Linked DNA regions of Homo sapiens. The protein of the gene in region 1 interacts with the protein of each later gene in a pairwise test. Each region holds a gene or a part of one and is shown in the gene's direction. Other genes may lie near its edges.

What was found.
Region 2: the proteins of KLF3 (region 1) and KCNIP3 interact in binary tests that used the Homo sapiens proteins (3 or more experiments, as listed by UniProt).

The regions. Positions count from the first base shown.
Region 1 is NC_000004.12:38,662,741-38,679,173, forward strand, and holds the start of KLF3 (Krueppel-like factor 3), read left to right. Parts: upstream 1-1,458; 5' UTR 1,459-1,721; exon of another isoform or gene 1,722-1,888; intron 1,889-2,053; exon of another isoform or gene 2,054-2,153; intron 2,154-16,433. UniProt on the Homo sapiens protein: Binds to the CACCC box of erythroid cell-expressed genes. May play a role in hematopoiesis.
Region 2 is NC_000002.12:95,304,207-95,320,639, forward strand, and holds part of KCNIP3 (calsenilin), read left to right. Parts: intron 1-6,148; coding exon 6,149-6,314; intron 6,315-16,433. UniProt on the Homo sapiens protein: Calcium-dependent transcriptional repressor that binds to the DRE element of genes including PDYN and FOS. Affinity for DNA is reduced upon binding to calcium and enhanced by binding to magnesium. Seems to be involved in nociception.

The DNA.
Region 1 (16,433 bases):
AATATACTATTATCACTCCGTTTTAAGCAGCACGATGTCTGGATGAAGCATCAAAGCGAGATGGGTCAACTTAAAGGGCCTTTAAAACATCTTGAAGCAATAATAAGCCATACACTGAAGCAGGGGCGGTTTTAAACATTACACAGAACTTAAAACAATCGAACGAATTCGTCCTTTGTTCTTTTTATTACATTAATTATTACATTAATACTGTTTAAAAAGAAACTCAAAAGGCATTAAACTTAGGTACCAATCTACACAAAGTCCTCGAAGGGGCCTGGCTTGGACCGAACGCGCTTTTGTGCCGCCCCGCTCGCTCGCAGCACCCTGAAGGCCACTGAGCTTAGGGCGCTAGGTCCCTAGAAGCGACTTGAAATGAGGGGGTCGCCAGGCCAGGCCCTCGCTCTGCAGGGGAGGATCCGACCAAAGTTTGCCAAGTTTCCAGGCAAGCCCAACTGCGCAAATGCCGCTTTTTAGCTCCAGCGGCAGGCCTGGCCCGTGGGAGTTTTGCCCCAGGGGTCTCCGGGCCTTCAAAGAAAAGTCCCACGAGGTGGGGGGCGCCGCCTGGGCCGCCGGCCAGGGGGACCCGTCGCCCCAGGGCACAAAGAAAGAGCGCGCCTACAGGGTGTCCCCTGACCCCGGCGACTCGGGGCCAGGGAGGCTCGGCGCGCCCCAGCGGCCGCTCTTCCCCTCCCGAACCCGCCCGGCCCACTCGCTCCTGCACCGCGGCCGCCTCGGCTCGGCTTTTCTCTTGCAGTGAGCTGAGTGCGCTCAGCCGAGGAGGGGCCGCGCCGCGCCGCGCCGGCCGCGGGGCCCAGCCCTTCCCGCCGCGCCCGGGGCCGCCCTTCCCGCTGGAGCCGGCTGATCGATGGCCCTGGCAGCCCGCGCCCCCCGCCTCGGCTCGCCCGCGAGCCCGGCTGTGTGTTTTGGAAGCAGCGCAGCGGGCCGCAGCCGTGTGACGCCCGGAGCGGGCAGCGCCGCCCTTCCTTCCCCCCGGGCTCGGGCGGCGGCGCGGCGGCTGGGCCGGGCGGGAGGGCTGGCGGGGCGCGGACTCCGGGGAGGAGGGCGCGGGGAGGGGACGCGGGCGGGGACGCGGGCGGGGGGCGGAGGCCGCGCCGCGCACGCCCAGCCCCACGGCCGCGCCGCGCCTCGTGGGACAGGTTGGGCCGGCGGGGCGGCGCCCGGCTCCGGGGAATAATGAGTGTCTGTCAGGCCGTCCCCGGGTGACTGGGCGGGGCGGGGCGGAGGCGGCGCGGGAGGCGGGGGTGGCGGGGGAAGGGCGCAGGGCGGGGTGCGTGTTTGCGCGAGTGACTCGGCCGACCCCTCCGGCGGCTGCCTCCACCCAAGTGGGTGGGGACCCGCCCAGCCCGGGCGGCCGCGGCGGCTCCCTCTCCCCTCCCTGACCCTCCCACCCCGGGTCCCAGCCTCTACTTACCCCGCCAGCCCCGGGAGGCTCGCAGAGCGAGCGGCGCCGGCGTCATGTGACTGCCCGGAGTTGGTGCCAGGAGCCAGAGGGGAGCCAGGAGCGGAGCCGCGCGGAGCCGGGGCCCGAGCCGGAGCGCAGCGAGAGCGCCCGCCGCACGCGCGCCCGTCCCCGTCCCCTGCGGCCGCCAACGCCGCCCGGACTGGAGCCCTGACATTGCTGCGCTCGGGGGGCTCCAGGCAGCCCGTATCGGGGCCTTTATTTCTCGTCGGCGGCGCCCTGCACCGCGCCTCGCAAAGTAAGTCCCGTCTCCCTCACCTCTGCTCCGCACCCTGGTCCCTGCCGCCCCCCTCCTCGGCCAGTCTGGTTTCATTTTTTCTCCTGGAGGGGGCCGCGGGGAATGGGTCGGGGGTGCAGCGCTGGTGTTGGGGGGGGCGCCTGCGGGCTTGGGAAAGTGTGGCGGCTACACTTAGCCGGGGTGGGGGCGGAGAGCAAGCAAGGAGGAGGGGGTCACGGGTTCGCGGTGAAAAGTGAGGGGTTGAGGCGAGGCACCGTGCGGACCCCGGGTGCGGGGGAGCGGGGCTGGCAGCGCCCGCCGCCGTCCCGGGCAGGGCGCGGGCGGGGGCTCACCTGTGTGGTCCCCGGCCTCCTCCCGCCCGCTCACGATTCCCTCCAAAGCCCCAGAAATCTCCGTGCTCTCCGCGTGTGGCAACGTTGTTTGGAGAAAGGTAGCGCCGCGGCCGCGCGCTCCTGCTCCTCCCCCTCCCGGTGCCCCCCCACCACCACCACAACCCAGGCTCCCGCGTCCTTCCCCTCCCCTCCCTCCGCCCGCGCCCCCCGCCGCCCCCCTCCCAGGACACGGCGCGCGGCCGCTCGCCCGCCACAGCAAACTTGGAGCAGTCTCCCGGCCCTCTGGAAAGAAACTTAGGGCAATTGGGATTGGAGGCAGCATCCCATTCTCGGTTCTGGAGCCCAGGAGCTGCCAGGGCGTCTGGATCCTCCGGGGCAGGAGAAATGAGCTGGTCGGGTTTGGAGAGTCTTCCTGGGGGCATGGAGAGAACCTGCCGCAGTGCCTGGAGCAAGGATTGCAGCGTGGCTGAAGGCGGAAGACGCCTTAGGCAACTGCCTGCAGCCGAGCCTGATGGGGACCCAGGGACAGATCCCTGGATCAGGACCCATGGGACCTACCTAACATTTCCAAGTGGCTTTCTTAGAGATGGCAGATGAGATCTGGAATTGTCATATTCATTTTTTTGGGCAGATAGCTACTGACAAGGAGAAGCACTTTTCTGGTTTAAATTTTATAGCAGTATACAATAATACTAGAAGAATGTGAATGAGACTTATTTTTAATAAGTCAAGTTAAACGGAAATTGGAAATTGCTCACCTTCTTGTATTTCACTAAAATAAACATTTTACACTTAACCACTGAATTTCTTACTCAGAATTTATGTTTCCATTAATATCACCCAAGACATTTTAAATATATTGATTATATTCTCACAAGAGTCTGGTATATGGGAAAAAGTATGAAGTGGTATTCTGACAAGTACCTGAAATGTGCCAGCAAAATCAAGTGGGGAATAGGCCAGTTGTTCATTATAGGTTTTTCCACACAGCAGTTTTGTGCTATCCTTTTCTGTACGAATTTGAGGAGCATTTTTATAAGAGAAATTCATCTGGATGATCTGCCTCACCCTAGGGAAGAAGACTTGCTTTTAGGGGAAAAAACAATCTGCTAGCATTAATATCTACAAATTTTTTGGAGTTAGTAATAGTGTTTAAGGAAAGTGTCCACGAGTGATTTCTTCTGGTTTGAAAAGAGGTATGTTAGTTGACCTTAGGCTGTTAATAGAAACCTGAAATTAGATGTTCGATTAAATTAAACTCCCTAGAGAAACTGGTATCTTCATTTCTGCAGTCAGTGGGCTTTGCTGCAGAACTATTTATTAGAAGAAAAAAACCTAATGTACTATCGGTAAGTTCAATGATGATACATTGTAAAGAACATTTAGCTTGCATGAAAGGGAATGCAAGTACAAAAATCTCAACATGGGAATAACAAAGAAAAGTAACTGCTTAGACCACAAAACCTTGTCAGGTACAAAACGACAACAGAGTTTTGCAGAAAGCTATTGTTTTATTCACTGCAAAGTTTCTAAATTAAAACCCAATCTTCTTGTTGCTATGGGCACAGTGATGCTCTTTTTTTCCTTTTTTTTTCTTTTTTTTTTTCCTTACCTGTACTTAGTCTGCACACACCACATTCTTAAATCTCTGATAACGTAAGCTTGAGTTAAACAGTCCTGGCTAACAAAGTAAAGAGAAATAATGGGAAAGGAACTGTGAATGGATTTTACTATCTTAAAAATAACCCAAAGGGAAAATAGACATTTTAGAATGACTTCTAGAAATTAGTACTCTGGTGTACAGATTGCATAATAATTTTTAGATAAATGTCAGGAACAGAATCACATTCTTAAAAGGCGAATTTCTATAAACGTGTGTATATGTTGAACAGATGAGCAGCTCTGCAAAGATGTGTATAACTGCATTTGAAAAAGACAGTGAAAATTTTGGGTTACTGTAGATGTCCCACAGTCTGTCTTGGAATTTAGTTCTGTGACTAAAGGAGGCTTACAGTTGCTCCAATTTTGGTTCTGTGGGGTACCCCAATTGTAATCTGAATTCCTAACAGCAGTGCTCTATCTTTTTTCCTCTTGATGCACTGAGGCTGAACCATAATCATTACCCTAACTCGGAATTTGATCTGAGCTAGGGACTAGCCATTGGAATGGGGCAGAAAGGGACAAAAGAAATCAGGAGGGAGGCTAGTGTTCATTAGGAAGGTCTCTGCTGCTTGAATATGATAAAATCACATTTCACTTATGATGTTTACTGTATGTGGCAGCTCTTATTTGTAAATAGGGCAGGTCCCCTGTATAAAGCTGGTGTTATTATTCACACCCGTAGAACAAACACCTCCACCCCCCTGTTGTTGTCTTAAAAAACTCCAGCTGCTCATGAATATAGGGTCAGGGAGGGCCGGCTAAATGTTTCTCTGTGCTTTCTCTCCAGCACAGCCAGCAGAGCTGTTTCCTGTTCTTTGTTTCAAGGCTGGGGTTTGCGTCATACATTCCAAGTGGCATATGTGTGCTCTTTCCTGTTTCAGGCTGTTTTCTGGTAGATCAGTAGCCCAGACCAGGCTGAGGTCCCTGCCCCTAAACTCCGTATCCCCACCCATGGAGTTATCATGTCTCTACACACTTGATATTGCTTAAGACGCCTGTGTTATGTCATAATGAGAAGTCAGTTAACCTTTTTACGTACACCCTTTGCTCCACTGCATTTGTCTGGGTGAATAAATGCTTTTACCTTTTTAAATTTTTTATTGCTAGATTGTGATTTGGGGAAACGTGGGTCCATCCTGGCAAAGAAACCTAAAGGAGTTTTGTTTGTATTTGTTTGTAATTCTTGTGTTGAAGTGGTTAGGGCGTTTGTTTTAAGATAGGCATTTTGCCCTGAAGCTGTCAATTTTGGATCAGGATTAACACCTTACAGTTTAGAAGACCTAGCATTATCTGAAAGATGTGGCCCACCCTCGTTCACGTTTAACCCAGGCTGCTCCAGGTGGCTTCCGTGGATGGAGAATTTAAGCAATGTTGGCAGCCTGGCTTTAGTTTAAGTCTTGCTTATGTTTGGAAGGAGAAATCTTTAGAAAAATCATTGAAGCAAAGCCTAAGACATTGAGAAAATCCCGGGATTATTTCTTTTTAAGGACAAAGATTTAAATATCAGGATAATGTTTTAAGGACAAAGATTTCACTGTGCAATATTCTACACCTCATTTCCAACCCGTTTTTAAGAATTAAAAAGCTCAAAGGAGAACTGGCATTAACAAATTCATTTAATGCTAGATTGTTTGGAAAATTTTAATCTTCTATTTTGAAAACAAGAAGAATGCTCTTCTCATTTTTGTTTTACAATAATATTTTTCATTTTTTAAAAATATTCTATCAGTTGTGGGTTAATGAATTTCTAGGATAACTATTTAAGACCTGCCTTAATATTAGTTTTCTGTTGGTTCTTGAGAAACTAAGATTTAAGGAAATATTTGCTTGAAAAAGAAAAGTTTTGGAAAGTGCTTTTGTAAACTTACTTGGGGATTTTTTTTTTTTAATCAAAAGGAATCATCTACAGCATCTCTGTGGAATTAATTTAAAGAGTTGCTGAAGCAGCAAATCAGGCTCTCTTCTCCCCAAAATTGATGATAATGGTGCGTTTTAAATGTCACATTCCACCACATTCTTTATGTATAAATGGAAAATATAAAATATGATATTAAGAGAGTTATTAGTATCAAATAGTTGGCTACTGATAACCTTCTATGAAAAAAGCTGGGAGTTTTAGAAGTCCCAATAACTTCTTTCTCCTTTGGGAAAAGCAGCTGGAAATACTTAGCTGACCTGTAGGACAAGAGACTTTTAAGCTTAAAATTCATAAGTAACTCCAATCGAAGCAGGTTTTTTTGTTTGTTTTGGTTCCAAAGTTGTTAACAATCTAACTAGGTTTGGTAAACAGAGTCTTTATTTGGCTTTCCCCAAATTCTTTCTTCTCTCTTTTGCAGGGAGATGAAGTGGTTAATAGAGATAATTAGGGTCTAATATATTCTATCAGAAAAAAATTCTGCAAGCTTCTAAATGCTAAGCTGAATAGTTGGGGAAAATTATCCTATCTTATAGTTGCTATGATTACCAGAAAGATGGGAACAAGAGTTTTAATTTCTTAACCATATAAATCATGATTCCTAATTTAATTTCATTGTGTCTCCATCGCCCCTTGAGATACTTGCCTTCTTAATATTTTCAAATCAACATTTTTGCTATAAAACGACAGATTTCTTAGGCAGCATTTCTTGTTCTCTGTTTTCACACCCAGTTGAGTTTAAGAAAAATAAAATACACACAACCTCATTCTTTAAGGTACTAGGAATTACAATTACATTATTCTGGAACTTGGATTCTTTCTGAAGTGCATCATTTATCATTGGTTCTAGCTTTTTAAAAAAGCAAATCCCTAGAATCTTAAAACAATTGATATCTAGTTTGCTAGTATGTGATATTCTAGTCAGAATTCCTCTTGGGAGTGAGTTGGAAGAGGGTTATGGTGGTCGCTAGCATTCTCATTTTCAAGACCACTCTGTTCCTTTCTTAGACCATGTTTCTCATCTTAAGCAGTCATGCCCGAGCTGGAGACAGGAAACCAGACAGCAGTCTGCCCTGATAAGGGACAGCATTGTCTGAAGGCGGGGAATAGCCCTGCTTTTACCCCCAACTCAGCTCTCTTTGCTTGAAATTTAGTAGTCATAGAAGAGGCACAATGCTGTTGACAGTTTCTGAACCAAAACTAGGATTCATTTCTTCCAAAGCAAAAAAATAGTGTCCTCGGCCGGGCGCGGTGGCTCACACCTGTAATTTCAGCACTTTGGGAGGCCGAAGTGGGTGGATCACCTGAGGTCAGGAGTTCGAGACCAGCCTAGCCAACATGGCAAAACCCCATCTTTACTAAAAGTACAAAAATTATCCGGGCGTGGTGGTGGGCGCCTGTAATCCCAGCTACTCAGGAGGCTGAGGCAGGAGAATTGCCTGAACCTGGGAGGTGGAGGTTGCAGTGAGCCGAGATTGTGCCACTGCACTGCAGCCTGGGCAACAAGAGTGAGACTCTGTCTCAAAAAAAAAAAAAAAAAAAAAAAAAAAAAAGATGTCCTCTTAACTGGCCTTGTCCTTATTCTGTAATGAATGTGACCATATTCTCTGGAACAGTAAGAAAATAAAAAAATGATCTGTGCATTTTGTATCCGTTGGCCAGAGAGTTTGTAGTAAAATTGTTTCTTTAGCAAAACAGGCTCCTGGAGGTTTTTGAAACTCACTCCATTGTGTCGGCAGGCTGAATTCATTATCATTTCTCCATCTAATTATTTAGAAGGGCTGGAGACAGAAGAGAGCAAGTTAAGTGGCCCTCTAGCCCATGCATTTCATGTAACCCCTGGGTCTGGCTCTTACCCTGTTTCCTGTAAGGGGGCGCTCCCTGAGGCAGACCCTTTGCAGGAGGACCCAGAATTGCCCTGCTTAGTCTGGGACATCCTCAGGATGGTTGCCAGTCTCTGGAAGGCTTGTGGATCCTGCCAGGGATGGCCCAGAGCTAGTCTCAACCCAAATCAGTGGAGTTTGGCCAAATCTGGACATAAGAGATCAAATGAGTATTGAGGTCAGCGGATTCTGCCCTGGAGAGCGACCTGCAAATCAAGTGTGGGGTTTTTTCTCTGGCCTATATGCTGTTCTTTCTACTACCACTGTTGTTTAAGTGTAATCACTGAAATCCACTCCTTTATCTGTTCCTGTACTTTGCATCCCTGGTACCTTCCAAAGCTTCACACTCCAAAGCCTCTTTCATTTGTAAGATCGAGTTCCTGTTCCGCTGAGTTTCCAAACCAGGGAGTTTTTCTCTCCCAGGCTCCCAAAGTTTTCACATTTACTTTGCATTTTAGAAGATGAGGTTTCAGGCTGGCTTCACCAGCCGCTGGACAGAGTTTCCATGTAGGACACCTGGTGTACCATCATTCCAGGGCCCTTGCCCTTAATTTATCCTAGCATGTGAGAAGTGTAGTTTGACATCCATTCATTTATTCATCTCACAAGTATTTATTGAGTACCTACTTATTAGAGCTAATCTCAAATTATGTGCAATCATTACTCTGAGTTATGCCATAGGATGGAGTAGATCTACAGTGATCTAACCTGAAAAGGCATTTTGAAATCTTAATTGCCTGCTGGAACCTCCCCCTGGCACTGCTTCCCATGGGCCAGTGTGGCTGTGCACACCCACACCCTCCCTACTGGGGAAAGACCCCAGCATTAGGCGATTTTACCTAAAAGTCGGTCCCACAGCACAGGCTCTGAAGCAGAACAGAAAGTGCCCGGGTCTGCAGGCAGACACGCTTCTGTTCCTGGCTGCAGCTCCAACCAGCTCTGTGAAATTGGGCGAGTCATTTCACCTCTGTTCCTCCATTTCCTCATTTCTAAAATGGGGATGAGGACCTGACCCTTCCACCTTTGTGCAGTTATTATGAGGATTTCCGTATTTACTTGGGTCAAGCTGCCAATTTTTCTCAGCAGTTATATCGACAATGCAGGTGCACTGGCTAGGAAGAATAATTGCCTAATTTGGGGCCTTCAGAATGTGTCTTTTGATCTTGCATCCAAGTGTGCGTACTGAGACAGGGTGGGCAGCAGGGGCCAGTTGGAAGGAGTGGAAACTGTCACTAATGTAAACAGACTGTCCCCACGTTCTGTCTTCTCCGGGGACCAACCTGTTCACAGAAATCACTATCATGTACTTACTGTTGGTGGTGTAATGTTGTCCTCTGCCTGGGGAGGTGGAAGAGTGGTGTGCCAAGGCCACCAGTCTTAAGTCAGACTACCTTGGGTTCAAGTCCTGGCTCTACGAGTTAGCAGCTGTGTGATGTTAGGCAGGTTACTTGACCTCTCTGTTTCAGTGTTCTTTTCAGTAAAACGGGAAGGTAGTAACCACCTCATTGACATTAAACAGCGCCTGGGGATTGCCAATCACGAAGGTGGTGGTGATTGGCAGGAAACCTGTGACATCACTTAGCCCCTTGCCTTCCTTGATCCCTTTTCAAAAACCTGTGTTTGTGCACACACCCCTTCCCCTTGCAGTTCCCCCCCACCTGCCTCCTCTCCTCCCTTTCTCGCTTTCTTTTTTCTATTTTAGATTTTAAAGTACAGTAGAGACCTCGACACTAGACTTGTTTAGAAGACCTCACTGAGTGGATAATAATAAATTATTTGAAGATGGTACTAATAAGGTCTCTGGAGTACACATGATGGGCCAGGCTAAGGTTAGGGGCAATAACTTTTCCTTAGGAAGTTTGGTTTACTAGGTCTCCCTTAGAGTTAGGCCCTTCATCCCTATTACTTGTTTAAGGGAGATTTCAAGTGCATTCAGAGGGAAAGGGAGATGATTGTGGAACTCCTACTATAAGCTAAGTGCTCTTATGTTAGCTCCTTAGGCTTGACATAAAAACTTCATTCAGGGAACAAGCCCGATCTCCTGTGGGGAGTGGGGAGGGAGCCCTCTCAGGAAGGCTGAGGCCTGCCTGTCTGTCCTTCCCAGTACTGGTGGCGGTGTGGGACGCACCACTGGGAAAGCTAAGAGGCCTAGACTATCTAGGTAAGAAGAGGCGGCCTTGGATCCCCCAGGGAGCAATCAGCTGGCTGCACAGAGTGGGGAGGGCCTTGAGCTGGTCTTTGAAGAATTAGGGGGATTTAGATAAGCCGGAAGGGGAGGGGGCATTCCATTGCCGGTTGCCCAGCATCAGGGCCAAAAATGAACAAAGGCCTGGGGGTGGGCAGGGCAGCCGGCATGAAGGGCACTTGTTGGAGCAGGGGGCAGCTCGTGGGTAACGGGGTGCCAAGCATGGGTGCCTGAGCCCACTGTCAGACCCGGGGAGTGCACGGGAGGGAAGGTTGTGAGCTGGAGAAGGATGGGATGAGAAGAGATCTGTGAAAAACGTGGGTGGCAAGGGGTGAGGGCTGGACTGGAGAGGCTGAGGGAGACCAGTGGTGGAAAAGCTGCAGCAATGCAGGTGGGAGGCGCTGAGGGCCTGGCCCCCAAGGCAGGAGGGGAGAGCAAAGGAGGTGAGGAAGGCTTCAGAGATGGCCTCTAGGTTTCCATGGTGAAGGACCAGAAAATAAGGCCAATGGGAGGCGGGGAGGGGGCAGCCTTAGAGGCAGGAACAAGGAGGGGTAGGGTTGGTTTGGGCCACGTTGATAGCAGTGGTTCAAAATGCTTTTCTCTTTCTTTTCTGCTTATTTTTAAAGGGAGAGGGTAGGCTTCGCTCATGGTTTTGTATCCAAAGTTTCAGTGGCTCTCTGGGAGGAACTTCAGTGGAGAATCCTCAGGAGCAGAGGAATGATCACAGCCCCATGGTTCCTTCTGGTTATTTTTAAGATTCTAACCATCCCTGTTCAGGCCGGAATTTCCAGGAACTGGCTGCTGCCCAGCGCCAACTGGTCCCTCCCAACCTCCCACTCCCTGCAGGGTGGGGCCCCATGGGTGGAGGCTCCTTAGGGTGGAGTTGGGTGGGTCTCCAGTGATAGGGAGGGCACTGAGCAGAGGCAGATGAGAGGCAGTGTGGCCTCACGCAGCCCTTCTGGATTTGATTATATAACACTTCATAGAGGAGAATTGTGAGGGCTTAGGCGAGGCCTTGTGAGATATGTACACAGCAGGATTAGACATTATGGGTATTTTTCAATTTATCTTGGGTTGCCTGCCCTTAAAACTAAAACACAAAATTGTCAGAGAGCATAAACAAGTGTGTAACCCTAGTAGGGAAAATGATTCGAGTTTGCTGCAGTTTCTCTAAGAAGGGTGTGGAATGCCACTAGCCAGATGGCCTTGAACTTAGAGGGTAGCATAGGTGTGGGTGTCCCCGCCCCCAGCCCTGCTTTGCTAGGCCTCAGTTTGGAAACTTGTCAGGCTTCTGCTTGGTTGTTACCTTTGCACCTGTCCTTATTGACATGCAAAATCAATTGCTTCACTTGGTCTTTCCGAAGTACAGGGTGTGGGCAGAATCTTATCTGAAGCCATGTCCTGTTTGGACAAGTTGGACTTGCCTTGGCAACTCTCCATAGGGTGGAGCAGATGGGTGGAGGCAGGAAAGTAAAATTGGGTGGCTTGTTAGCAGAGAGAGGAGAGAGGGTGGGTTGTTTGCTCACTGGATCATTATATTTCATCTGAAATGAAATAATTAACTTCTTTCCCATTTATAATACACATTAATGCAAAATAACTAATTCATGAGGGGCGAAGATTTAGAAACACCCCATGGAATTTTTCTCCTTTTCAAACCAGTCATAGAAGAGTAGGACAGGTGAAAATCACAGAGTGGCATGAAAATTTCCAAGAATGTCTAGGTAGGAAATTCCAGGTAGGTGCCAGTGCTTAGCTTTGTTTCAGGGAGCCTCCAGCTTAAAAATGCCTGCTGACATCTGTTGCCTGTCCCCTGTATTTCTGGCTAGGGCAACTGTCCTTAAATAATACTTGAGCCATTGGGGGATTTTGAAGAATTTGGGTAAAGAAACGAAGAGAGAAAAGTTTCTCTGGAAAGGAAGTTTAGCTACAGGGATGTTGCTTGCCTGCCCAGTTTTCCTAGCCAAGAATTACACACACACATGCACACACCGCCTTTTTTTTTTTTCTTTTTTTGCCTTAAGTTCCTTTGGGGAGTAAGGGTAGGGGAAGATAACATGTTTTCTCTTTGAAAAATCCAAAAACTTAGAAGAGTTGAAAGGGAGGCTTAGCGATGGTGTGTTAGTGTATTGCTCCGTATGCCTAGCCGAGGTCAGCTGGGAGACGGAAGTTTGCTTGGAGGAAGGCAGGTGATTTGGAGCCTCGGGGTCAGTCCTGGGTTGGGGAAGATAATGCAGGCACCCTTTGAGGATCTGTGGGAAGAAATGAGGGCATGGAGAAAGGAAGAAATAGGGAGATGAGAAGGGAGAACGTCAGAGGCAGGTCTTGCTCTAACCCCAAGAAACAGGAAACTGCTCCTGATACGTACACATTCTCTCTCCACCTTCCTCCTCCCTCAGGAAGGGGCAGGCAGTTGTCTGTAAGGTCGTTTCTGTAATAAATCATGCTCTAGCCTCCAGGCAAGCTGCTTTCAGAGGAGGTTTAGTAACCCCCTAACCTCGTCTTCCATGAAGGACTGTGTGTGTGTTTCTAAGCCCTGCAGCTCACCTGCAGCCCCGCTCCCCACTCCATAAAGCCATTGTGCATAGGTCTCAGACACCACTGGATAGGGCTCCAAAGCAGGACTGCATTACTTCTGAAACTTCATGTCAATGATTCACCAACCCTTTTAATCTATAATCACGCAGTCTTGCATTTTGACAGAAATTTGACCCTTATTTTAACATCTGAAAAGTCAGAAGTGCAGGTGGAAAGAGCATGAAGGGAAATCTGTTTCTCCTTTTTGAGGACCATTCATTTTTATTGGCCTTTCTCTGCAAAATAACACAGCTGGGGAAGATGGCATTTGCTCCAGTTATGGAAAATTATTTTGGCGGTGGTGATGTTCCTGTATATTTTTGCTTTTAAGCACCTCAATAACTTAGAATTTTTCATAAAAACAATTTTGCCCTTCCCCCCCCTTTTGGATGCAGTTTTGTTATCCTGGTATTGCTTAGTTTAGCATTAGAATGTATTTCTAAGACTAGCTAATGTATTTCTAAAGCTAGCTAAGCTAGTTAAATATAATGAAGATGTAAATGTGTTTATGATTGGAAAATAGTCGTCAGAAAAAAATAGAACCACATTTAGAGCCTCCTCTTCTCTGTGATACCCACATAAAATGATTAATAGAATTCCTGAGCCTGGTTAAAACCCACTAGGTTTAAAGACCCCGAGGTTGGCCAACTGGATTGATTTACTGCCGGTGTCCTGGTCTCTAATGCCTGTTTTAGTGCGCCACCTACTGGTTCTGCTTCAGATTGCCGTCAGTACTGTATGATAGATTTTCTAAGCATTTGTGGTTTACTTAGCATTCTTTCAGAATGGTAATAACCCCAGTGCACTGAGCCGCCCATGGGTACCAAAGACTGCCAAGTTTAGGGACCCTAATTCTTCCAGGGCTTAAGTTACTTCTCAGTTATGTGGAAGGCACTTTGAAGACTGTACAGTCACTCTTTTATGATTGTAGATCAGAACCTGTAAACAAATTAGTACCAATGACAAAAGTGGTCCCTGTAGTCAGAGATATGGGTGCAAAGTATAGAAATTTTTTGCAAATACATAAACAGAAGCCTCATTTCTGTTCATGTGTTTGATTCTGTTTCTAAATTTAGTTCCTTCCTAGCTTGGCTTCCCTATCTTGTCTTTGTTAAAAGTTTTGATTATGGAAATAATAAACTTGGCCGGGTGTAGTGGCTTACACCTGTAATCCCAGCACTTTGGGAGGCTGAGGCAGGCAGATCACTTGAGGTCAGGAGTTCGAGACCAGCCTAGCCAACATGGTGAAACCCCGTCTCTACTAAAAGTATAAAACTAAGCCAGGAGTGGTGGTGCATGCCTGTAATCCCAGCTACTCTGGAGGCTGAGGCAGAAGAATCCCTTGAACCCAGGAGGCAGAGGTTGCAGTGAGCCGAGATCGTTCCACTGCACTCCAGCCTGGGTGACAGAGTGGGACTCCATCTCAAAATAAAAATACATATAAATAATAAACTTTAAAAATAGAACACAGATGTGTAGAAAGCTGTCCCACCCACCGCCACTCCCAAGAAGCTCCTGTTAACAGTTTCGGGTGTGTGGTTCCAGACGTTTTCTTTGCATGTCCTTTATCTTCTTGTTTTATATCCTGTGACTATCACTAAAAGCATCATCATTTAAAAGCTATTATCAGAAGCTACCAAATTGGAAACAAAGTGCTTGTAGACATGTGAAATAGTGAGTTTGATTCTATTCTTTGTGATATTTGAATTTTGCACGGACTTTTTTTTTAATGTCCAGGGATGCATTATTTAGTTAGGAATTTCAAAAATAGGTATTCTAATCCTATCATTCCTTCTTTGTTTATTAACTTAAATACTTCTGTAATGAGAACATCCCTTCATCAACATTTGGATTACTTTGAGGTACATTTCTGGGCAAATAAACATACCCTTGTAATTATTTTTTAGTAAAAGCAAATCAGGTTCTGTTAGTGCCAGTGTGTTTTTTTTTTTTTTTTTTTTTGAGACCAGAGTTTCGCTTTTGTTGCCCAAGCTGAGTGCAGTGGTGCTATTTGGGCTCACTGCAACCTCCGCCTGCTGGGTTCAAGCGATTATACTGCCTCAGCCTCCCGAATAGCTGGGATTGCAGGTGTGCGCCACCACACCTGGCTAATTTGTTGTATGTTTAGTAGAAACGGGGTTTCACCACGTCGGCAAGGCTGGTCTCAATCTCCTATCCTCAGTGATCCACCCGCCTCGGCCTCCCAAAGTGCTGGAATTACAGGCATGAGCCACCACGCCCAGTCAGTGCCAGCGTTTTATACTAGACTATGTTTCTCTTAGGATTACAAGTCTTGCATTTCCTTAAACTTAGATAAAACAAAAAATTAAAGAACAATAGTGATTTAAATAATGTCTTAATGATAAAAAGATGTAGCACATTAATGTGTAATTCATTTCTAAAAGGATTCAGTAGTCGTTGCTGTGGGCATTAGACAAAGTCATTGAAAGCTATGTGAGCTAAATGGTAGACTTAGAATTTGAACGAAAAGGAACTCCAGAGCCCATCATCTTAATTTATTCTGCTGTGCTGCAATTAGTGGTCGTAAAGCGTGCAGGATGACATGAAGTGGGGAGATGCTGGCCTCGCTCAGAAGCTGTTGTTGCAGTGGTACAGTTGTGAAGTGACAAGGCCTTATATGAGACCTCATACAGGATGTAGGCAGCTGTTAACTTTGAAACTGAATCTAGTCAGAGTTTTATTTAAGGGTGGGGGATAGACCTCTAAGGCTAGTGTATGTTAGCAAAGAGGCAAACGCCAGACATTTTTGCTCCGGAAGTTGGAACCAACACATTTAGTGTTGTGTGTACAGAATATACATCCAGATTTTATGTGCATATGGATATAAATGAGGGCAAAAGGAGTGTGTGTGTGTGTGTGTGTGTGTGTGTGTGTGTGTGTTTTAATCTCACTTGATAGACCTAAATCCTTGAGAAGCAGATAGGGAGCCATGCTCTGCATTTTACAAATGATCACTCTTGCCCCATGGCTGCGTTAGTTTGCAGCCTGCTTGAGTCTCAAAACCATGGCTCCTTCCTTATACACCTGAGAATGTGAATGCTTTAATTTAGAAGCATTTGCATCAAGATACTCTCTAGTGGGATAGATGAGTCTGGAAGAGTGAATTCAGTGTAAAAAGCTGGGGGTGAGGAGGTGGGAGGCTGCCACAGGGTGACCAGCCGTGAGTCAGGGCTGCTAAATGATCTGACCTCATTGATGTAAGCAGGAGATCTCACATCTTTTGTTTATGGTCCACTGTGAGGCACTGGACAACAATTCTTAGAACCATGTTCATCCGTACAGCTGCTAGTCTGGGAACTGCTTAATAATAGATCCCAAGACACAAAAGCGTTTTCATCCCTCATTACGAAATCATCTATTTTTCACTGGCTGTTGCGGTTAGTTCTTGCTGGAATACATAAGAGGGTAGTAGCACTATTGATTTGAGCAGCTTGGTATCAAATTGTGTTTGCAGATTACAATACACCCTGTGATGGAGGAAAATATAATTTTGAAGTCAAGGCCTTATGTCGAGTTATTGATGAAATTCGTGTGTTGTCATGAGATTCAAAACAGGCTTTCTTCAATGAATCAACGAAGCACAAGAACGACATAGTATCACTTCCATCATTGTATATGAAGATATCTTAGTATAACCCGTAGAGCACCAACACAACAAATTATAGGATTGCTATCATGGAGGTGGGGATGGGGGTTTTTAACACTGAAATACAAGAAGGAATCCAGAACCCGGGATTCCTGCAGCTTCTTCAGCTGGAACTCACTCTAGAACTTGTTCACTTTGCCACTCAAACCAGGGTGATCTATGAAGACCTTACCTCTAACCAAAGCACTGAGCACTTAAACCAAATTTGGCTAATGAGTGCCTGAAGTCGATTTCTGAAAGTGTGTCTAGTAGCAGGACAGTGTTTCTGTAACTGAGGAGACACATTTGAACATTGAGCAGACTGAATATTTTGTCCTGTGAAGAAGCAGTTGGCTTGATGTAGATTAGTGTTAGAAGTGGACTGTACAGAACACAGAAGAAAATAGAAGGGATGGCAAGCAGAGAACAACAGAAGAAAAAGACAGGACAGGATCAAGGTGGACATTTCCTTTACAATAGGCTCATTTCCTAATGAGGAGAAATCTGAGTGA
Region 2 (16,433 bases), on another chromosome or scaffold:
TGCTATTGTTTCTTATTATTTTTCTTTAAATTAACTCATGCATTGAATTTTAGTGAATTCATTTAAAAGGGAATCTTTAAATCAGTACTGTAAGTGGGAAGCCGGGAGCAGAAGTGGAAGGTAACCACCACATTGCCATGAAATAAGGCAGCAGCGATAAACTCCCACCCATGGTCTGTGGCCTGTTGAGGCTCTGAGCTGAGGCCGTGCCCTCCCTTTGTAAAGAGAATGGCAGTGGGGAGCTGGAGAGTGTGCTGGCCCCGAGTCTAAGTCATCTCCTGCACCTCGTAGGTGCAGCTCCCCACTGCCAGAGACCTCAGGCCAAAGCCCCCAGGACGCAGCTGACTCAGAACAGGCTGGGTTTACCCCTGTTGAATAACAGGAGAACGCATACCCCAGGGACCCTGGCAAGCTGCATGAGAACGGGTGAGCTAGAATCCATTACCGGATTTGGGGCTCAGTTGGGTGCTTTGGGTAATTTTGAGGTTCTAAGGAACCTCAAAAAGTTGGTGTGACCATTAAATATGATAACCCCTCCAAACAACTAACTCAGCACCAGCACACAGCAGGGGCATCACCCACGCCATCTTTTTCCATCCCTCCCTGGCTCCCCACAGGCCAGGAGGACTTAGAAGGAAGTTGAGGCCTGGTCCTGGCCTGCCTGGCTGGGCAGGAGCTACAGATCTCGGCCACCAGGTGACTGGCAGAGAATGGCCTGCCTGGCTCACCAGCAGCCTCTATCCTTCAGGGAAACTTGTGACCTTTGAGAAGGCTGCAGGTCCCCAGGGCCAGCCTAGGGCCGTTTCTGGGACACAGCCCTAAATGCCCACACTGCCAAGTATGCCACCAGGGACTCTGCCTGAACCCAGGGCCCAGATCTTCTGGCTTCACTCGTCTCTGCCACTCAACCCTGGCCATCCTCTAAAGCTGGTAGACAATGACAGTTCTGTCACCCATTAAAATGAGGCCGGCATCGAGCAGGAGTGGGAGGAGAGAGCCCCAGGTGAATTGTGAAGAGCACAGGGGACTTTTGATCATTCGTGAATATTTATTCAGAGCCTTGTGCATGCTTGCGTTTTTAACACCTTCTTTTTGGGTGCATGAGAGTATTTTTTGATGGAAATCTTTATTGAGCTCGTTGTAGATTCACATGCAGTTGCAGGAGCTCACAAAGAGGGCCCATGTACACTTAACCTGGTTTCCCCAATGACAGCATATTTCAAAACTACAACACAATAGCACAACTGGAGTGTCTGCAATGATGCAACCCACCAGTCCTAGTCCGATTTCCCAGTTCACACGCACTCATTTCCGTGTGCATTTTTTGCTACAATTTTTATCACGTGTAGGTTCAGGCACTCAACAGCACCATCAAGATGCAAAACAGCTCTGTCCCCTCAAGGCCCCTCCTGCCGCCCTGTGAGAGCCACACCCCTCTCCCTCCTGCCTGCCTCCCCCCATCCTTAACCCCTGGCCCTCTAATCTGTTCTCCATTTCTAAAACTTTGTCATTTTACAATGTTATATAAATAGAATCACACAGAATGTGACCTTTTGGGTTGGCTTTTTCATTCAGCGTAATTCTCTGGAGGTTCACGCAGGTGTGGTGTGCGCCAACAGTTTGTTTGTTTTACTTGTCCAGAATTCCGTGGTATGGATGCACTGGAGTTTGTTTAATCATTCACCCATTGAAGGGCATTGGGTTGCTTCCAGTATGGGGCCGTTCCAAGTAAAGCTGCCATGAACATTTGTGTACATGTTTTCACTTGAACATAACTTTTCGTTTCTTCAGGATAAACGGCCAAAAATACCGTGGTCGGGCTCTGTGGTAGCGCATGCCTAGTTTTTATAGGAAGCTGCCAGACTGTTCTCCAGAGTGGCTAAGGCGTTTTCCCTTTCCACCGACAATGGAGGGGTGATTCCGTTTCTCCACATCCTCACCAGCTTTCAGTTGTCATTATCTTTGGTTCTAGCTGTTCGGACAGGCACATGGTGGTGTCTCACAGCGGTCCTCCTCTGCGTTGCCAGAATGGCTAATGACGGCGAACATCTCTTCCCGCCGCCTTTGCCATCCACGTGTCCTCTCTGGTGAAATGTCTGTGCATGTCTTTCACATTTTCTAACCTGATGGTTTGCTCTTTTACTGTTGAGTTTTGGGAGTGAGGATCTCTTGGGTGCCAGGCTGTGTCACGAGGAAAAGCAGGTCACATGAGGATCAGGTTCCACTCTCGCAGAGCTGATGCGCTAAAGGGGAGAGACAGAAAACACAATAATAGGATCAGTTCACAAGGGCTGGGTGAAGAAGTGCTGAGATGGAGGTGCATGGGGGAGGGTGGCCTAGGTAGTCAGGCAGGGCTCTTCTAGGACCTGAGCCGTGAGTGAGGCCTTAAACGCCTGGGGCAGAAGTGTCCAGTGCCAGGAGCAGCAGGTGCCAAGGCGGTGGTGTGGGAGCAGACTTGGAGGGGCACGGTGGGGCTGTCAGGGCCTGGCAAGGAGGCACTGGGGCTCCCGGCAGGGTTGGGGCATCTAATTCATGTTCCATCTCATCACTGCCCCAGCTTCTCTCCCAGCACCAAGGCACTGTGGGGTGAGGGGCCAGGGGGCCGCCTCTTAGGACGCCCTCCCTTCCATGCTGTGAGCCTCCCAAGCCAGCAGGAGGGTGCCTGGGCTGCTATTTAACATTCCCTGACAGCTCAGTCAGACCCTCTTCCAGACAGACAAGTGTCAGATATTCATGAGGATGACCTCCTCCCGCCTCCCCAGCAGCCTGAGGGCCCAGGCCGCAGCCTGATGAGTCCCAGCTTCCCAGGCTCGGCTGCTGGGGTCTCCCTGCCCTCCTGTCCCTGGCCCTCCCCTCCCTTCTCTTCTCAGAACCCACCCCCTGCCTCACAAAGAGGGGTGCCCATCATGGGCCTGCCTTGTGGGGCTCACAGGTGGGATTCTGGCCCCTCAGCCAGATGGAGGAGCCTGGCCCGGAACCCCCACCACCACTCCACCCAGACTCTCTCCACAGGGAGAAAAGACACACTGGGGCCCCCTAGCCCAGGAGGGCATCACAGCACTCCTCAACGGATATTTTTGGAAGGCTGCTGATGTGCCTGAGGGGCTTCGGAACACACCCAGCTCCAGAGACCGCCCCAGGGACCCAGGCCGAGAAACAGCCTCAGCAGCAAAGCCTGTGGTCAAGCCCATGTGAACTTTGGAATCAGAAGACTATATGTGTAGTGTGGCCCTGGCATGTCCCAAAACTTCTCAGGGAATTAGTTTCCTCATCTGTGAAATGGGGATCGTCTTACCGATTGCAGGGGGTTGTCGTGACGAGATTACTTTCAGCTCAACATAGACATCCACTTGGGAGGTGCTCAGCCTGCCCTTTGGGCTCACCCAGCCTTCCCGGGAGGACTGAGCCCTGTGAGCTAGAACCCAGGACACCCATGGGATCTCCCGCACGACCTGGGCCTGGGGCTTCAAGACAGAATCCCTGTGACTAACCCTGGGCCCCGAGAAGCAGCCTTGCCAGCCAAGCCAGTGCTGTTCTGAGATGGGCTGCAGACGGGGCTGGGGGTCCCAGTGAAGAGCTCCTGCCAGGGGCTCCGAGGCCGCCTCAGTTTCTTCTGATGTCCTCTGCTCACCCCCCACGCAGAGCCTGCAGCAAAGAATTTGTGATGTAATGAAGCACCTGCTGCCCCTCTCTCCCCTACGACCCTCCTTAACCAAAATAAAGACTCCTGAATAAGATCATGAATAATGGAGAAAGTGCGTTTCTGACCCAGCCTGACAGGACGTGTGTGTGCATATGTATGTGTGAGCACATGTGCATATGAGCATGTGTACGTGTGTGTGCCTATGCATGTGTGCTTGTGTGTGCATATGAACATGTGTACTTGTGTGCATGTGTGTGCGTGTGTGTGCATGTGAGCATTGTACACGTGTGTGTGCATAGCGTGTGCACATAGGGAGCTTCCCTCAGCACCCCAGGCACCCGTCCACCCCCAGCTCTCCCCCTGTTTCTGCTCCATCAGCATGGTCAGTGCCTCTTCTTGCTGCAGCTCTGGGCACCACTGAGCCCCCTCATTGCTTGGTGAGCCTTGGAGAAGGGGAGGGACGTGCAGGGGTTGTTGCCAAGGGTGTGTCGGAGGAAGGGTGGATGATGACTGTGAGCTGGAGGACTGGTAGTTGGGACCTAGCTGGGGAAGGCCCAAAAGCCAGGATAAGGGAACTGGACATCTCCCTGCCTAGGGGACCACTTCATCAAACACTGACTAGTGGGCCAGCTGCCCATCCCGAATGTGGATAGGCCTCAGGGGACCATGAGCCAGTGAAGCACCCAGAGAATCCTCCCCCAGCTGGAGCCTGCAGTGTGCAGAGACCAGTGGGGGTGCCAGGCCCATGCCTCGGGAGAGGGGCCAGCCTTTGCAGCAGCAGCAGAGCCCTGTCGCTGGGCTCTGTGTGGACGGGCATGGCCAGGGCTGGTGTCCGGCGCTGCTCTCTGATCTCGTCTGCTTTCCAGGACTGGCTCTCTGTGCTTCCCTGCAGGCTGTGACTGGCCCGGGCTCCCTGCTGCCAATTCTTCCAGTTCAAATCAACCTGGGTCAGTCTCTGGCTCTTGCACCTGACAGTCCAACTAGCACAGGGGCTGTCTTCCAGGGCTGCCTCTGTAGAAGCTGCTTGACGGCCCCGTCCATCTGTTATTTACTTTGAACAACCAAATACTTTTCAGGACCGTGCAAAGGTAGCACACACGAGACCCTGTGACCTGGGAAGGGTATGGACAACCCACCCCCTGAGTGGCCCTCTTTACTGGCCAAGGAACCCAACTGCTCAGAACACATATGCATGTGGGGGTGGTGCCACTGCCACAGCTAGAGGTCAGGCAGTGCGTCACAGACAAAATGAGGGCCATTGGTGGGCTGTGGTCCAATGGGCCAGACCACACCTGTCCCCCTGCCACCCCGAGCAGGAGAGGACAGCACAAAGGCAGCAAACTAGACCCAGCAGGTGCACAGAGGTGTGGCCAGCGGCAGCCTGCGGTGCACCTCCCTCCTCTGTGCCTCATGGGCCAGCTGCCAGCATGGGAACTGAGCATGGTGGGCAGTTTGGATGTCAGGATTGGGGGGCCTGAAATACGTTGTAGGAGAGCAAATCCTGCTGCCCTGGGGCCTCCACCATGACCCCAGGAGGTTGTTTTCTGATCCACACCGACTCAGGCACATGGCCCACTGCTTTTTTTTTTTTTTTGAGACAGTCTGGCTCTGTTGGCCTTGCTGGAGTGCAGTGGCATGATCTCAGCTCACTGTAACCTCCGTCTCCCGGGCTCAAGCAATTCTCCTGCTTCAACCTCCTGAGTAGCTGGGATTACAGGCACATGCCACCACGTCTGGCTAATTTTTGTATTTTTAGTAGAGACAGGGTTTCATCATGTTGGTCAGGCTGGTCTCGAACTCCTGACCTCAGGTGATCCGCCTGCCTCGGCCTCCTAAAGTGCTAGGATTACAGGCGTGAACCACCACGCCCGGCTGATCCACTGCCTCTTAATGACCACCCATGACTCACTCCTCCCAAGACTCTCCTGCCCATAGCTGGAGCTGTTTCTTCAGATCCCTGCCAGCCTCAGTGGTCGGTTCCACCAGTGCAGCCCTCCTGGGGTCACCACCCAGCCTTTCATTCATTCTCAGCTTGCCTCAGCATGAAAACTCAGGCAGAGCAGGGGCCCTGCTGGGGGAGTGAGGGAGCCAGACGTGGCTGTGTGACCCTGTACAGATCCACTTGCCTCTCTGGTTTTCAGGCAGATGAGGGATTGGGATCGTGATTTCTAAGGGGCTGTCCAGCTCCGACAACCTGGCCTGTGCCAAGGTGGAGAATCCAATGAGTAAGTCTGGGATCACTGCTGACATCCCCTCTCTGCACCCCTGTCTGCCCCTCTTCCAGGGGTCCCATCTTACACCATAGCCAGGGTGTAGAGTGAAAGGAACCTCCCCAGGTCTGGCAGGAATGGCCAGGACAAGGGGCACTAGGCATGCAGCCCCGGAAGGTGAGCCCTCTGTTGTGTTCAGGCTGGCCTCATCTAGGATATCAGGGCAGCTCGGGACCATCCAGGGGTCCCCCCTCTGAGCAGGGGCTCAGGGCTGCTCTGCCTGTTCCTACTGCAGGAAGTGACAAAGGCGTCGGACGGCAGCCTCCTGGGGGACCTCGGGCACACACCACTTAGCAAGAAGGAGGGTATCAAGTGGCAGAGGCCGAGGCTCAGCCGCCAGGCTTTGATGAGATGCTGCCTGGTCAAGTGGATCCTGTCCAGCACAGCCCCACAGGGCTCAGGTAGGGGCCAGGGTGGGCTGTGGTCAAGGGTGGGGGTGGGGAGATCTGTTCTGAGCACTGTCCTTTCTGAGGGCTCAAAGGCCAGCCTGGGACCCCAGCCTGGGCTACATCGCCCCTGTCTCTATTGGAGGTGTGTTTTCATTCATTCACACCCTTCCCCATTCATTGAGTGCCTGCTTCACACAGGCCACTGAGCTCCCAGTGGGACCCACAGAGCATGGGTACAGAGAGCTGGGACCACACTGCGGTTTTCCAGTTGGCTAGGAAGACAGAGCCAGGCTGCAGAGTCCAACAAACCAGGCTCCACCCTGCCCACTGCTCACGCCCTGAGTAAGCCGGGGCACCTCATTGATCCTTTCTAAGCCTTCCGTGAGAAGCCAGGCTGGAACCTGTCCACAGGGCACATTTGAAGATGGGAAATAATGTGTGCAGTGCCTGGTGATCAGGAGGCCCCACCCTCAGCCCCTCCTTGGTCCTGTTCAGTGCACCCCAAGGATTGGTGCTGGCTCTTTGCCTTGGGCTGCATTCTGGTGGTGTGTTAACGAGAGAACGGGCAGAAATCACTGCCCTGGGCTTGCCATGGGTGATATTTGGTGTTTGCCGAGTATAACAGGGCTGAACAGACAATGGCAGCCTCATGCGGCCCCCACGATCTCACACACACATTCAGACACCTCACACTCACACCTATGCACACACACCGGTGCCTCTACCACACACAAGCTTGCACACTCATCATGCACACATAGGTAGGCATACCATACACACTTGCATACTCACATACACACACCACATGCAGGCACCCACACACCATGCACACTCATGGGATCACACATGTGAGTATGGTGCGTATAAGAGTCTGCCTCTGACTTTAAGGAAAAGGTGCAGACTTGCCCTTGACAGCTGCATCTTGTTTGCTCTCTTGGACCCTCTCTAGCTGTGTGATTTCCAGGGAGCGTTTGTCCCCTGGCCAGGAGAATGGGCATGATCGGGGTCCCAGCCTCCTAGGCTTGATGGGGGTCATGAGTGGAGGGGATCAACTGAGGGGTCTGGGCAAACAGCAGGCACAGTGGCTGACAGCCACAGCCAGAGGTCCATGCCTGTGCACAAAGGGACTGGCTGCTACGCACCAGATCCCCGTCCTTTACCCACAAATGCCACTCCAGGGTGCTCCCAGCACGATTCCAGCCCCCTCCCTTTTGCCACCACCACCTCTGCTTCCCCACAGAGCCCCTACCCATCTGTGATGCTGTCACCTTGGCTGAGACTTGTCCCCAACCCCTTCCCATGGAAGCGCTAGCACCTGTGAATGCATGAGTGAGTTCCACATGCACCCCCAACTTCTCGGGGATGGGGGTGGCAGGTTTTGCAGGTAGCAGAAACATGATGAGGTCACTAAAAGCACATGCACATAGCTCGACCGGGAAGGACCGCCTTCAGGGCACTGTTCATTCTGCATCAGAATGAAAATGCGCCTGCTCTCCCTTAGGGTGGGGGCGAGAGCACGGTGGCCATCGCATGTGCTGGCGGCTCAGGTCCACTCTGACGGGCACAGCTTCAGGTCGCTCGAGACTCAGATTTCCTCCACTTCAGTCTTCCAGGGTTTTCTTGGTGGCAACAAGTATTTAAGGGGTGCTGCAGTGGTACCCTCCCTCCATCCCTCAGGTCCTGCAGATGCTCAGCCTCATCCTCCCGTCTCTCTCTGGCAGGCAGAGGTGGCTCAGGACGGGTGGGGCTGGTGTGCATCCTTTGCCGAAGCTTTCTGCACACCCGTGACAGCAGCAGCTATGCTGAGTGGGGTGGACGGGGAGAAAGGTGACAGAGGGGCCGGCATGGCGTGTTCAAGTCAGGGCGGGGGGGACCACCCCTGCACGGCCCACCCCTGCATGCCCCATCCCACCTCACGGAAGCTTCCTAGAGGGCAGGGCCTTTCCACACCCAGCTGTCAGGACACGTTTGCTGAACAACTTGTCAAAGGCGCACAGGAGACAGGGCCAGGGCTGGGCCAGGGCACCAGCGATGGGTTTGTTCCCCTGCATGGATGTGTTTACCGGACCTTGTGCCGGCACTGGGAGCAGATGTGAACGACACATCCAAGAGCCTATTTGATTGTGCAAGGAAGGCAGTGTGGAGCTCATCACCCTGATTTACCAGAGCGTCCATGGCAGCTCAGAGAGGTCACGTGACTCAGCAGATGGCACAAGAAGCGGGGGTTGGGGTGGGGGAGGCTCGGGCCCAGAGCTCCACGGTGCCCACCCTGACGAGCGTCTTTGGTGGGAGCTGAGGGACGAGGGAGCCCAGGGACCTCACGGACAGAGGAGCCGGGACTCCAATGTGCCCTTTGTCTCCCTTGGCCATAGCTCCCGGGTCTCCTCTCTTCAGTCCAAACACGTCCCGTGTGTGTCCCGCAAGGAGGCCGGGCTGGTGTGGTCACACTGAGGGCTTTGTGCACGTGTGAAGTGCTGCGCGGTGTGCAGATGAGGCATCCCCCCTCTTTGGGAGCTGGCACAGGCTCTGGGTGCAAAGAACAATGGGGCCCATTCAGTGCAGCCCCACTGTGTGCTCTGCGAGGCCCAGCACGGTGTCCTGAGCCTTGGGGTCCTGTGGGAGGGGGGCGGCCCAGACACTGTGCCCTTGTACTGGGGTTTTTCCATTCAGCAGAAGTGGGGCCAGAGACACATGTCGGGAACAGCTGGGAGTGAAAGCCAAGGCCCAGCCTGGGAGTCCTGGAGGCTTGGGTGAGGTAGAACGTCGGCAAGGAGTGGACAGGACCCAGGGTCCTGGAGACAGTGGGCAAGGGCTAGAGCATCTGTGGCTGGGCCCTGGGTGGCCAATTCTGGGTGTGAAGACCCCAGGATGGAGTCAGGAGGTGGCCAGCAGTGGGGCCTCTAAGAGGGGAGCCCAGGAGACTCAGAGCACAGGCAGCCTGGCCCCACCCTACCCAGGAGAGGCGCCCCATCCTCAGCCTAGAAGCTCCTTGGACCCTCTTCCATGACCCGGAAGCTGGGACTCTGGCCTGCCCTGCATGCCTCCCCTGCATCTAAAGCCTCTCCCTGCAGGATGCCTCTCCAGAGGCATGGCCAGTGCCACAACTGGACAGACCTGTTTCTCAAGTTTGATGCCCACAAGGGCTGTGGGACTTGGGTTTCTTCAACTGGAATAATAATGTCACCCACAAATAACCTGGGGTCCCAGCTGCAGACAACCGAAACAGGGTGGGCTCCAGGCCTCAGGAAGTTCACAGAAACTCCGGAGGACCAGAGAACGAGGTCTGAATGGGACGAAGCCAGGGCCCCACCTAGCGCCTTGGGAGATGCCTGGCATCCTGGACCACTCTGGCAGGAACGCTCTAGCAGCTGCTGCACGCTTCTGTGTGACACGGTGCAGCCATTCCTCACACACACACACACACATACACACACACACACATACACACACAAGCACACACACATACACACACACATGAGCACACACACACGCATACTTACACACACGCATGCACATGCCCCTCCCCCAGAGAGAAGACCCACATCCTCCTCAGTCGCCGATGCATCCCAGGGAGATGCTCATTCTCCCCGGGGTGCCATGGCAACCCCACGTAAAATCATAAAGACACCACCACCAGTGCTCCTGGGAAAGAGGGGTAGCAGAAAGGCATCGGAACAAAAGGTGAGTTAACTCGTCTCTAATACGTAAAGATCTATAAACAGAATTTTCGCGTATTTGAAGATACAGGATACAATTGACATCATGAAGCATCAAGATACATGATATCAAAGTGAGATGTCAGATCAGTGCAAATTTTCAAGGATTTCTGAGAATTAACCCCTTTCCATGGGGTTGTAGTATGACATCTGTGGCCATCTTTAATCCACCACAAAGATGGATTAAAGATGGATTAAAGCCACAAAGATGTGGCTGAGTCCTTGGTGGAGTGATCCAAACCCCCATTCCTGAGGGATCTGAGTCCTGGGTGGTCCTGCCTCATTGGGGTTGCTAGAAGCCCCCACTGACTTTCATCACTGTAACTGGCAGTGTTGCTAGGCTCCCTGGAGAATTCACTGGATTTGAAGCAGAGTCCTCCCTGCTCCCCTCGATAATAGGGTCATTCACTGGCCGATGGCCCTTGATGCCAGTTGGTCTGAGTGGTGTGAGGGGCCCAGCATGGCCAGGCGGCCGTCCCAGCTTCCAGTTTAGCAGAACCCCTGCTGCCTCCTGCTGGGGACCCATTCTCCCATGGGAATTTAAAGCCTCTAATCCAGAGCCTGGAGTATTGGTGAGGAGCAGCAGAGGTGCGGTGAGCAGGCACTGGATGAGGGAGGGGCCTTTGCGTGTTTTCCCGGGCTCCGGGCTTGTTCTTCTGGCTGGGGGAGAGGCAGCACATCCAGCAGTGTCACTGGCACCCGACAGGGCAGCCCTGGAACCCGCAACGGCTGCCAGAACCAGTCTTCAGCGGGTCTCATCACTGTTCTGTGAGGCCAGCTGCCTCTGGGGGTGGGCACAGGACGGGGACGGGAGCCTGTGAGCCCTGGTCTTTGGTCACACCGCTCTATTCCGTGGTGAAATGAGTCTGTTGCTTGGGATCTATGGCGTGGAGGCACCGTGATGGGGGAGGTGCTGGCAGCACCAGGGCAGGCCAGAGGGAAGGTCACACCCAGAGTGACCATCACTCCCATGAGGATAATGGGAGCCCCAGAGTGATGGCAGGGATGCAGAGTGGCTGACCTGCCACCTGGTGGCTGGCTGGGCACTGAACTGCAGCTGCAGCCTGATCGGCCCAGGGAGAAGTTCTTTTATTGAATCTACGGTGTTTCGTTCTCAAGCAAATGCCAGAGGAGCCAGGAACAGAGGCTGTGAGGTGCACAGAGGGGACCACTGGCCCACCTGATCGTCCAGTGCCTCCTCGGCCCCAGCGCCCCTTGGAGGGCACTTGTGAAGCACTTGCTGTCCCACACTCCGGGTGGTTCCTCCCCAGGCCTCCCAGCCCTTACTCCCCCGATCCTGCCCCTCCACCTCCCTGACCCCTGAACTAATGGTTAACAGCCATCCATGAATCAGTGTAAACCTGTGCCTTCGGCCCTCTCTTCTTCAGACAATGTGGGCAACACATGTACCAGGAAGATGTCCCTTCTCCACGTCCTTCCCCTAGGTGGGCCTCAGTGTCACCTAGAGTTGGGGCCAACATTTCTTGCAGCTCTGTCTATAAGTCACCTCCGAAAGTTTTTCCTCCTCAGACGGCTTCGAGACCGTAGGGGGCGGGTGGGCTGTGGGGAAAGCGGCAATGCAGCAGGTACTGTGGGAGTCGCAGCCCCCGCAGGTACAGCCTCCCTGCGCCCTCCAGACCTGCCCTGCCTCGGGCCCCATCCACAGCACCTGGGCATGACGACAGAGCACTGTGTGCACATGCAGATACCAGTGGGGCTGGGCGAGAGGTTGATACTCGATTGCTGTTGGGTGTTTCGGGGCTCATGGCCACCTACTCTGTCTCTCTGTCTCTGTCTCTCTCACCATCAGGCGCTCCACCCCCACAGCAGCCCAGCAGTGGGAAGTTAGCTGAATGCCAACAGGAGAGATTTTTGGCATTGCTCAAAACCCAAGAGACCACAGATTTCCCCTCTGGGGGCCTGCCATGGCCCCGTAGAGCATTCCAACTTGCCTTAGACTCATCGTGTGTCATTGAATGTTCTGGGTCATTAGGCCCAAGGGGCAGCACTGCTTGTACTTGGCCTGCACCTGCGGAACAGCCTCTGAGCCGCACATTTAACTGTGGTGCACAGGAGGCCCGCCGGGCACCGCACCTTCCTTTACTGGCAGGGGTGCGAGGCGCAGCAGCTCGTCTTTCCCTCTGCAAGGGATCCCTTGGCTTGCCTGAACTTGCATATAACAGAAACCCCAAATAACAGTGGCTTGATCAAGACAGGTGCATCGGCTCCTATATGGGAAACATGGGGTGAGGCGGTGGCTGGCACTAGTTTGGCAGCTGGGGGACGTCAGTGTCAATGTCTTGGGTTCTTCTACCGTTCCCCTCACTGTGGCAATGTGGTTGCTTTGCAGCCCACACAGCCTCATTTCAGGCAACAGGAAGGAGAACCCAGGTGGAAGCGGAGAGTGGTGGTCCCCATGTCAGGAAGGCAGCACTCACAGAAGTCTCTGGAAGACAGATGCTTCCATTCCACTGGCCAGAGATAAGCTGCCCTCACTGCGAGGAAGGCAGGGGAATGGTGGAGTTTTCAGCTGGGCGCATTTCCATCTCCAACAGCATCTGAACCCTGCTGGTGAAACTCAGGAAGAATGAATACAGAACTGGCATTCTCAGCCACATGTGGCTTGCAGGGTTGTTTTGATGACTGAAGGCACTCACTGGCACCCAGAAAGACCTTAGCAAGCTGCCTGGCTGTTATCGCCTTTATTTATTGCTAAGTGCTCAAAAATGTGGAGGGCAGGGGGTTGGTCAGCTCCAGTCATGAATTTGGCTCTCCCTTCTGCTCCTCAGCAGAGGAACCGCTTCCCACTTCCCCTTCTGCATTTTAGAGAGGCACAGCAGGGCTGAGGGATGAGGCCAGTGGATAGAGGTCAGAGGTCAAGAGACAGCCTAAGGCTAGGGCCCTACCTATGCCCCCGTCCTACTCAGGGCCCCTGGCCCTGAGCCTCCTAGGCAGGGGACTGTGTGAGAGCAGGCTGTTCCCTGTCTGGCTGCAGAGAAGCCCTGGGGCCCGGGTGAGGCCCCTCTGCAGTGAGATCACACCCTCAGCTGATAATCACACCAGTGTCACCTCCTCTGTTGGTGCTGGGAGCTCAGGAGTGACGCCCACCCCATCCCCACGCCTCCCAGCCCAGGAAGCCGCAGGGGCCCTTCTGCCTCCAGGAACAGTGAGCTCCGGGGGCCTGGAGGCTGAGGCCAGGCACCAGGTGAAGGGGCCAGCCCTGTGGCAGGGGCAGGGGCTACCTGAGAAGGCAAACCCAAGGCAGGAGGACTGAGTGCACTCTGGCTGCCCCGGGGCTCTGGGCTGAGGGGCAGGCAGTCCCCGGAAAGGCTGGGAGAGCCAGAAGCAGGGACAGAAAGCAGAGGAGAGAAGGACAGGCCCAGAGCGCCCAAGACACTGGGGACAAGCTGAGACCAAGAGGAGAGACGCTGCTTTTGAGAGACAGAGACAGACAGACAGACCAGGAGTGGGGAGTCCTAGAAAAAGAAAGGTGTTGAGTGTCAGGCTGAGGAGAGGCTGGCAGAGGAGGTCAGGGAGCAGGCTTGTGGGGGTACCGCCTGCACAGTGGCAGGCAGGGCAGAGCTGAGGGCAGGAGTCGGGCGGATTAAGCCAGGCCCAAGGATGGCAGGGTGCGGCCCTGGCCCGAGGCTGCAGGAGTGCCAGCATGGCTGTGGGAAGCACCTGGGAGGCATCATCAGCGTCTTCTTCCGCTTCATCTCTGGGAACCTGGCTGGAGGTGAGGGTTGCTTTGGTGGGGCTGGGATGGGGCTACAGAAGGGACAGCTTTGGGCCGGGTCAAGGATTGGGCCTGCCTTATCTGGGGTAGGGGTGACAGGGGGCAGGGGTGGGCAGTGGCCCTGGGAGCAGGACCAGGAAGGACTGCAGTCTTTGCAGCCCACCCCTCCCCACTGTGACCTGGGGACAGTGAATGCCAAGCCTGGGATCCCCCACTCATGGGCCCAGGGAGGGAGAGCAGATGGGGAGCCGCTGGCTTCTCCATGGGGTACACAGACTCAGGACAAGCCTGGGCTGGGAGAGAGTGGGGTGGCTCTCAGGCCAGTCCTCCTCCTGTGCACACTGACTCGACCGCCCAGGCCCTCCCCGTCTCCTTCCCTCACTGGAAACCCTCTCCTCTTCCATCAAAGGCAGAAGTGGTGTCTGTGATGAGGATTAACAAAAATGGGCAGGTGTGTATTAAGACCTCTATACAGAAAGTGCTCAGTTAATGACAGCCACCTCCCAAAACCTATGAAACCTAAGCAACCTGGAGGCCTTGGCAGGGATGTAGGGGACTCCCTGAGTCGGTACTTGTGGGCCCAGGCCTGTGGGGAACCGGGAGGTGGGTGATCCACAGCCAGCCAGTTCCACTCCAGGCTCTCCCTCCTCTGCCTGCACCCGGGGCTGAGCAGGACCAAGACCAAGTCTCGGCCACGGGGCTACGAAGCAGGCACAGGGGTGGTGCCCTGCATGGGGGGACCTGGCATTTGCTGGGAAGGGTTGATATCAGGAGCTTCAGACCCTGAAAGGAGTGAGCATCAGCAGCTTGGAGTGCTGAGCAAGTGCTGTGGGGACGCGGAGGAGAGTAGGCTAAAGAAGTCAAGTGATTTCCAAAGAGAGATAAAATGATGTCCCTAAAACAAAGATGAGCTGGTGTAGACATGTGACATGTACATCCCAGGACCTGGTGCCACAAGCTGCCTATGCTGCCAGAAGATGCTGCCCCCATGCTGAGAGGTCACCTGCAGCCGCCGGCAGGGCTGGGCTGCCACAGCATCTCCAGGGACCAGGGGCTCATCCCCCAATCTTGTCCCTGCCCTGTCCTGAGTGCCTTGCACAGAGCCTGGCACATAAAATACCTGTCAAATTCATGCATGACATTTTGAGAAGCATGCAAATGTAAGATTGAGCATACACTCACGCATCCCCAAACAAGTAGAATAACAGGGGCTTGGAGAGCGGTAGAGCAGCACAGAGTCTGCAGGAGGAAGGCGGACCCTGCTGTGCGGAGGCTGGTGGAGCCGGGGGCTCAGTCTAGCCCCAGGTGGCAAGTTTGGTGGCTCTGAGTGGGGACTCGGAGAGCCCAGGGTTCCTGGGCCTTCCAGTTTTTCAAAAGAGAGGGGAATGCTGTGGCTACATGTGCTGTCCCTTAGCGGTGCCTTAGGCTCCCAAGCCTTCCCTTCCTCAGGAAGTTATTTTGGGGAAGGAGAGAACTTTGAAGACAGTGGACCCTGGGCCGCTTCTCTGTGAGGTGAGACACTGGTGGGCCAGGCCCAGGGGGAGAGGAATGTACCTGAGGTCACTGAGCTGCTGGGCATGACCCTCCAAGCTGGGTGCTCCTCCTTGCTCCTCCTGGCTAGTGACCCCAAGCATCCCTCCTGCCCGCCCTTGGCCTGGCTCCTTATCTTCCCTGGAGGGGCTAGAGCGATAGTGCCTCCTCCGCTGGGTGGCCCAGAGGGCCAGTTTATTGCCATGATGTTGCCATAAGCAAGAGTCCGTATCGTCTGGAGCTCCGGGCGCCTGTGTCATGCCTTTTACCTGCCTCACAGGCTCTTGGGCTCATGGTGCTCCCTCTCTCTCCCTCCGCTGCGCCGTCTGTCTCAGTCCATGTTCCTTGCCTTCCTTAGGGAGAGTGAGACATAAGCCTCGTATTGGATTAGGAGGCCAGGAGGGCTGCTCCCAAGGTGGCCGTTGAGCCCCATCTCAGAACAAGGGAGGGAGGGCAAGAGCGGCAGGTTTGCCTCTGCCCGGGGCCCCAGGTGCCTCTCCTGGCACCGAGGGCTGGGGCTTGCTGGTCCACCTCTGAGTTCCTCCCAGCTCTGGCGATGCCGGTTCTGGGATTCTCAGCCAGCCAGGGAGGTGCTCTCTGGGAGCAGGGGTGAGGAGGCTAGAGCTGGCTGGGTGTGGACCCGGAGGCGCGGCTGAGAATGAGGTGGGTGCTGCTGAAAACACCACTGCCTGCTGCCAAGGTATGGAACCACACGGAGGGAGCCTGAGGCGCTGTGGCCTCTGACCCTCAGTCCACTCGGTGTGGCTGCTCTTCCCTGCCATTTGCATTAAATTTTCTGCAGATCCTGTGGTCACCTTTCAGGTGTCAGCAAGTACTCAGGGAATCCTTTCCAGCCCGGCACCCCTTCTTTGCTTCAGGACTCCCTCCTGCCACTCACGGCAGCCTGGAGGGGTCGGGGAGGAGGAGGCAGGGTGTGGTGGGGTGTGGGCGGGTCCCGGGTCTCTATGCCCTTCCCAGACCTGCCCAAGGCCGCCACCCCTCAGCAGCCCCTGCCACCCCTCGGCCTGTCTCCCAGGTGCTGAGCCTGCCCCTCTCCCGTGGTCTTTCTTGTGGGGAGGATGGGACTTTGAAGATGGATTCCCTGGGAGCATCCCCTCCGGCTCCATGAAGGCCTCTGGGTGGGTGTCC